Homo sapiens: one gene and its partner. The protein of the gene in region 2 interacts with the protein of the main gene of each other region in a pairwise test. Each region holds a gene or a part of one and is shown on either strand. Other genes may lie near its edges. The genes, in order: PEX7 and PEX5L.

Region 1 (3,919 bases), on a different chromosome or scaffold from region 2:
AGATCGCTTGCACCCAGTTCCGGACCAGCCTGGGCAACATAGTGATACCCTGTCTCTACAAAAATAAAAAATCAAAAATTAGCCAGGTGTGATGGTACATGCCTGTGGTCCCAGCTACTGGTGAGGTTGAGACAGGAGGATCATATGAGCCCAGGAGGTGGAGGCTACGGTGAGCTGTGATTGCACCACTCTACTCAACCTAGGCAACAGGGTGAGACCCTGTCTCTAAAGAGAAAAAGAAAAAAGAAAAAAAGAAAACTACTACCATTATAGACTCATGAGTCTTCAGTCTAACTGGTGGGCCATGTAAATCTGAATGTGCAAGCACTAAGAGCTAATAATGAAAATAAATCAAGTATTTCTCTGAGTTTTAGAAGTAACATTTTTTTCTGCTGTAGGACAAAACAAAAAAATACAATAGACCACTGACATTATGAAATGAGTTTTTGCATCTCGCTTCAGTGCGTATAATAGCTAGGACATGAATTAAGGCAAAAGCGAGAATGAACCTACGCCTTTTCATCTAGTCCACGGACTAGATGGACTCTTTTTTTTGAGACGGAGTTTTGCTCTTCTTGCCCAGGCTGGAGTGCAATGGCACGATCTCGGCTCACCGCAACCTCTGCCTCCTGGGTTCAAACTATTCTCTTACCTCAGCCTCCCGAGTAGCTGGGATTACAGGCATGCGCCACCACGCCCGGCTAATTTTGTATTTTCAGTAGAGATGGGGTTTCTCCATGTTGGTCAGGCTGGTCTGGAACTCCCGAACTCAAGTGATCCGCCCACCTCGGCCTCCCAAAGTGCTGGGATTACAGACGTGAGCCACCGCACGGCGCTTGGCCTTTTTTCTTTTTAAGACGGGGTCTCAGTCTGTCACCCAGGCTGGAGTGGAGTGATGTGATCTCAGCTCACTGGGCTGGGGCAGAGTGATGTGATCTCAGCTCATTGTAGCCTCAACATCCCGGGCTCAAGCGATCCTCCCGCCTCAGCCTCCTGAGCAGCTTTAACCACAGGCTGAGCCAATGCGCGCGACGGGAGACAATTAACTGGAGTCTGTAACACCTACTTGCGAATGTGTGCATTCCTCGTTAGACAACTACAGGTAAGAACTGAACTTGATATATTTCATGGTGTCACCCGTGGGACTCCAGGCGTCCATTCAGGAGCATCGTCCTTAGGAAGGCCAGCCCGCAGGTCGCAGCTCAGTGCTCGAATGCAGACTGGGAATTGTGGGCCAACTCGCGAGCCCTGGGTCGGTTCTGGCTCAGACCGTCTTCCCCGTACTGCTGTGCCGAGCGGACCGATCCAAGGGACCGCGCAGGCTCCCCCGGCTCTCCCTACGGGGACGTGTGCCTGGGCGTGTGACACGTGGCGGAGGCAGCGCGGTCTCAAGGAACAAGGACACGGGCTACTAGGCTACACGTATATGCACTTGCACACAACTGGAAGATCGACTCCTGCTTCAGACCAACTCCTCGCACTCGGCAAAGAAAGGAGAAGCGCCGACCAGCGCCTCTTCTGCCCCCTGGCGTGGACCCGCGGAACCGTCTACGCTCAGAGGGGCTTTCCCTCGAGCGCGAGGAACTGGAGCCCGGCTGGCCCCCGCCTCCGCCTCCGCCCCCCGGCCCCAGCTGCGCGGCGCCGCCTCACCCGCGATGCCGTAGTGCTGCGCGGTGGCGCAGGCCAGGCGGCCCGGCAGGTACGGGGAGAACTCGGCGGCGTAGCCGTGGCGTCCCGGCGTCCGCAGCATCCGCGCCGCTCCACCGCACACCGCACTCATCCCGCCCGCCGCCCCCGGCCCTCGCTGCCCCGGCCGCGGAAGCCGTTCCGAGTCGGAGGCACACTGGCGCGGTTAGAGAGACCAGGCAGACCGGACGGAAGTGTGGGCCCCGTGCCCTGTGTTTGAGATTCTGATTGGTCCGCACAGGAAAGGGCGTTGACTCCGACGGAGACCATTTTTGTTTTGGGTGAATCCAAACTGAATTGCGCCTGCTGCAAAGATACAGATCTATCAGGGGAGTGATCCAGGGTTAGGTATTATTAATAATTACGACAGCTTTTGTCGTTGCATCTCAGCCTCCTCTGCGGTGCTATCTGGTTTTTATTTCATTGAGCGTTTGGAAGACTGGCATCAGGAACTTTTCCTGATGATTATAAAGTGAGAAAAGTTACAGCCGACTCTGAAACCACGCAGCGCGTCCAAAATTGCGTGCTGCGTTGCCCAAGGAAACTGGAAGCAATGAGAACTTAAGTCCGTGGAGTCACTGCGGTCTTTAGGAATAAGAGCGTGGGCTGGTGGGCTACTTTCACACTGTAACTGGAAAAGATGAAACACCAACTCCAAACCAACTCCCCATGCTTGGCAAGTGAGAAAAAGGAGCTGGCCAGTTCTAATGAAGCTAAGCAAAAAAGCAGCACATCATCATATACAACTTTTTTAAAAAGTATTACTATACATGTATATATTGTATGGTAATAAGTGCTCAGATGCTGGTGCTCATTCATTCATTTATTGCCAGGCATATACTATGTGGAGAATGACCAAATATAATTTATCTGCCAAACCAAGATACTTTTGAGAGTAAAGAGGGTGTAATTATTAAGCCAGGTCAACAGGCACAAACCAAGTCGTATGATCATCTTAACCATATACCAAGAACAGTACTAGGCATTTGGGATTCAAAATAATGGGATATGGTCCATGGCCTCAAGAGATTAGAGAAGAAGACTAAAAGAGAAGTCATGTAATTAGTTAAGTGTAATCAAAATACTGTAGAGGCTATGATAAATTTATATGGGGTATTTTTAAAAGGTGATTGTCCGTGCCAGAGGTATGGAAATTGCAGGAAAGGCTGCAGAAGAGAGATAAGTCTTTATGGTGATTGCACACAGATGAGTAGGTTTTCTTTAGGTAGACAAGAAGATGGAGATCTTTGTAGGAGCAGGAATAACATGAGCAACCCAGGAGATTTAAACCAGCATGATCCATAGGGGGTCGTGGCTGCCAGGACTCAGCCTGGCCAGATGGAAGGGATACGGTGAAAAAAATATTGGGTGGGGAGACTGTAGAGTGTTTTACTGGGGCTAGATCATGAAGAGTCTTATATACCATACTAAGAGAATTGGATTTCTACTGTAAACAGTGAAAAACAGTGGAAGTTTTCTAATGTGAGAAATTAAATGACCAAGGTTTTATTTTAAAAAGTCCTGCAACACTAATATGGAGGATAGAGTTTGGAGATGGGGAGGCCAGTTAAAAGACTTTTGCAGGCCGGGCGCGGTGGTTCACACCTGTAATCCCAGCACACTAGGAGGCCGAGGCAGGCGGATCACTTGAGGATCCAGACCAGTGTGGCCTCTATTATTTTGGATTTTTATCATATGTAGTCACTGGAATGTATGCTGCATGAGGGCAGAAATTTTTGCTTGTTATGTTCGCTGTTGTATCCCAAGGACCTGGTATTTAAGCATTCAGGAAATGTTGAGTGAATGCAGCCTAATACAGTGCCTAAATGATCAGTGTGTTTTTCGTAATACTACAAAAAGTAACCTGGAAACATTCTGGAGTTTATTGAAATGCTAAATAGGCGTTAATAAAATATCAAAGTAAGCAAACATGAAGCAGCTGGGACCTTGGCAAAGAGTTGTATATAAAGAGTTATCCAATCTAAGCTAAAAATAGTGTGGTATCTCTGGGAGGGAGAAAGGCTGGTTCCAGCTGGGGTAAACTATTTACAGTGACCTTGGACATACACACACACACACAAACTGAGCTATTACCTGCTCCTTACCTAACCATACATGATTATAGCATTGTAAAATATTTCATCCCACCTGTGAAGCTTTCTAAAATATAAACAACTAAACATATAAAAAATAAACCATACTCTTACACTAGATTTTGAGCATCTCGAAGTAA
Region 2 (3,919 bases):
GAAAAAAAGTGAATGAAAGACGTAAATAGGAAATCTGGCCGGGAAAATCAGATGAAGCCAGGAATGAAGTTAGGATACAAAATAGACATCCGCAGGGCTTGGACAGCTGATGTGTAGGGGGGTGGCACAGAGTCAGCTCTGGGCTTTTGCACAGCTGATGTAAACAGGGCCTCTGCAGTGGCACATTTCACAGTGTCCATAAAATAAAGCAAGCCGCTTGGTAAGGAGTCATTCAGCTCTTCCTGGTTTTGATCTGAGAAAATTCTCTTGACACAGTTAATCTAGTGACTAATGCTCTTTGTAAGAGTTTTTTCGTACAGTGCAACAACTATTTTCTAGGATCTCAATGTTTGCCAGTGGCAAAATGCACCAATGCAGTTCAGAAGCAGTCATTCTTTAGATGTCAAAAGAGTGAAATCTAGTTATACAGTTCTCTGATGACTTACTAAATAAATAATAGTAATAAGGATGATGATGGCAAAAATAATAATCATCATAATAAATGCCTGCTAGGCATTGAGCATCTGCTCTGTGCTAGGCAATTACATTTAACCTGTACAAAATCCTGAAAAATAATCATTACCTCTTTCTCTCTCTTTTTTTAACAAGTGAAGAAATTGAGGCTAAAAATTATAGACCAGAGTCACAAAACCGGTACATGGCAGAGCTGTGATTTTAACACAGGCTTGTCTGATTATTAAAGCCTGGCTCTTTCAGAGAATGAGAAAGGGTTTACATCTTTTGTGGGGTTCAAAACTAACATTTAGTTCTTTTTCCAAATTATGAAAGTAATACCGGTTTATTTAGAAAATAGAAAAAATGGGAAAAGAAAGAAGAAAAAAGATTACCCATACTTTCATTATCTGAAAGAAATAAAGGTCATTTCTAGGCCCTGGTAATGGGAAAAAGAAAGAGAGGACGCAGACCTTAACGACGAAGGACGAGAATGAGAAAGGCATTTTAAACTATAAGCCCAGTTGTGTTTTTTCTTTTCTCCCAACTAACTTGATTGGTATATTAGGTTTAGAAAACCTGGACTCTTAGTTTTGCTTTGCTAAACACTGATTCTGGGACTTTCTGAAAGTCATTTTGCCAGGTCCCCTTGCCCACACCCCCAAGGCTCTTTTTTCCTTAAGTGGAAAATGAAAGATTGACGGGTACTATTTCTTGAAGAGTTGCCCTTGGGGGTGTTGAAAATGCTGATAACTTGTCCTAATCCAGGCCAACTGAATCAAAATCTCAGGGGCCAGGAATTGGGAATCTGCATTTCCCAAGATGCGGAGCCAACTGCTGCTCTCTAAAGATTGAGAACCAGAGAAGCACAGGGTTCCTGCTCAAACAGGCCTTGGGATCTGAAGGCTCCACATTCACCCTTAACGGCAGGAGGAGGAATACTCCTACCAAGGCAGGCATTTTTACTTGGAAACAACCTTTCAGATTATTCGACCTCAGTCCTGGGCATGGCCTTCATCCTTGGCCTGTTGCTGTACTTCACCTGTAGGCGCCCAGGTTGATGCAGCTTATTCCTAGGTTGTATCTGGACCGGATGAATCCTGGCTGAATCTCCAGTGCTCGCGTATAGGCCTCCACGGCTTCCTCGCTGCGGTCTCCGTTCGCCAAGGTCGCCCCGAGGCGGTTCCATAGTGAATAGTCCTGATGACAAAATCAGAACTTTCTAACAACCCAGTACAAGGCACAATGACAGAGCATTCCTGTATTTCTCTGCAGAGAAAGGAAGATGGCTAAAAATTTATGCAGTGCTCATGGATGGAGACCATGGCCAGGTGAATTACTAAAAAATCTTCACGGACAGTTTTGTCAAATGACTTTCACTCGTCAATGAACAGCTACCATTTGATGTTGTCATCAACAACATCAATTAGTGTTTCTATTTTAGGTATTTCAATATTAGTGTTTGTATTTCAGGTATTTCAATATTAACAGCCACAGTAGCACATTATTATTAGTACCCATCACTTTAAACCATTGGAGTCAGGGAAATAAAGTGCAGAAGAAATGTAGACGGTGTAGCCTGTGAAAACTTATTTGTTACAGAGAACGCTGTGGTTTCTTGCTGTGCTGTGCTGTCTTACCTCTGGCCGAACAGTTAAGGCAGCGTTAAATGCATCTATTGCTCTATTAAATTCTCCACTCAGGTGGAACAGAACCCCTAGACCTGTCTGCAGGTCTGGGTCGATCATATCTCCATTTTGGTGGGCAGCTTCCAGATATAATTCCTTCACCCCTTCCAGAACAGAGCTACAAGAGAAAAAAAAAATTAGATTTGTAATCCAAATAGTCAGAACATAAATGATTTACTGTTAAATCCCTTGACTGTATTTCAAGAAGTCTCTTCGTTACAGACTGGAAAATTTTGCTTAAAATACCTTAACTCAATGAGAGGACTATTAATGCTGAATGTTTTAAAATATGGTTGAATTTCATGAACTATTTTGTTGTACACGGATACAGACTGTGCTAAGTAAGGTCTTCACGAGGCGAGTTCTGTTGACTCTATGAGTGCCAATGTGGAAAACCCCACAGCTAAGTTTCCCAAGGCCTCAGTGAATAAGGATTTAACATAAGGATTTATTGCTGATAGAAAACAAAATTTCTAGGCCGGGCGTGGTGGCTCACGCCTGTAATCCCAGCACTTTGGGAGGCCGAGGCGGGCGGATCACGAGGTCAGGGAATCAAGACCATCCTGGCTAAGGTGAAACCCCGTCTCTACTAAAAATACAAAAAATTAGCCGGGCGTGTTGGCGGGCCCTTGTAGTCCCAGCTGCTCGGGAGGCTGAGGCAGGAGAATGGCGTGAACCCGGGAGGCGGAGCTTGCAGTGAGCCGAGATTGTGCCACTGCACTCCAGCCTGGGCGACAGAGTGAGATTCCGCCTCAAAAAAAAAAAAAAAAAAAAAAAAAAAGAAAACAAAATTTCTAGAAGACGAGACTTTCATTTTCCCCATTCCTAATTCTCAGGCTGGATAAAACTTGGAGCATTGGTATTTATTATACTTCACCTTGGGTGAATTCTGTGTCCAAAGCATTTGACTTTAAAATGTGGCACTCAGATAAATGTCTGTGAGTGCCCACAATGTAGATCATGTGCCCGAAGGTTGGCCCTGGTCTAAGCATTAATCTTTCTAACGAGTGATGCTCCTCCAGCAGAATACTGTCCTGCAAACCATTCTGGAGTGGGTGGTGTCTAGGGTGTGAGGCTCATTAGTTGCCCTTTAGGTGATTCATTGTATATATGGGTGTTTACTGCCAGCTGTAATATAACGAGAAGGATACCTATCAACTGGGGACTTAGACATCCGCCGGGTGAGGCCTGGAGATCCCTTCTTGCTTTTCACAAGGTATTTGTACTTTGGATTTTGCTTAATCCAATTCTTCAGAGCGTCACAGGCATCCTGCTGATGGCCAGTGTTAGTATAACTCACAGCCAAGGCCATCAAAGCTTTTAAGTTGTTGGGCTGTAATTCTAAGCACCTGAAAAAAAAAAAGAAGCCAATTTCAGATTTTTTTTTGAGCCACAATCTAACAGTTCTTCAGAAAATGTGGGGGGTCTTTATTAACTAAATACTGCAAAAGCATTGGTAAGCTTGCTTATGTCAAGTTCCTGGAAAGCACCATATTTATCCACATAAAAATGGAGACCTCAGCATATTTTTAAGAAAGTTAAAACTTACCCTAATGATTGCTAGGTTTGGTAATTTTAATAAGTAGCTTTAAAACTATGTGGCTTATCCCTGCACATGATTTATTAGTGCTTAATCTAATGAGATCTCATGAGAAATAGGGGATATCATTATTTTAATGCTGCTTTTTTTTTTTTTTTTTTTTTTTTTTTTTTAGACAGAGTCTCACTCTGTCACTGAAGCTGGAGTGCAGTGGTGTGATCTTGGCTCACTGCAACCT

Evidence for each region.
Region 1: the proteins of PEX5L (region 2) and PEX7 interact in a two-hybrid assay, tested with the Homo sapiens proteins (one study listed by BioGRID).

What each region holds. Positions count from the first base shown.
Region 1 is NC_000006.12:136,820,527-136,824,445, reverse strand, and holds the start of PEX7 (peroxisomal biogenesis factor 7), read right to left. Parts: upstream 1,855-3,919; 5' UTR 1,781-1,854; coding exon 1,651-1,780; intron 1,549-1,650; exon of another isoform or gene 1,083-1,548; coding exon of another isoform or gene 1,067-1,082; intron 1-1,066. UniProt on the Homo sapiens protein: Receptor required for the peroxisomal import of proteins containing a C-terminal PTS2-type peroxisomal targeting signal. Specifically binds to cargo proteins containing a PTS2 peroxisomal targeting signal in the cytosol.
Region 2 is NC_000003.12:179,806,179-179,810,097, forward strand, and holds part of PEX5L (PEX5-related protein), read right to left. Parts: intron 3,491-3,919; coding exon 3,293-3,490; intron 2,260-3,292; coding exon 2,094-2,259; intron 1,654-2,093; coding exon 1,496-1,653; intron 1-1,495. UniProt on the Homo sapiens protein: Accessory subunit of hyperpolarization-activated cyclic nucleotide-gated (HCN) channels, regulating their cell-surface expression and cyclic nucleotide dependence.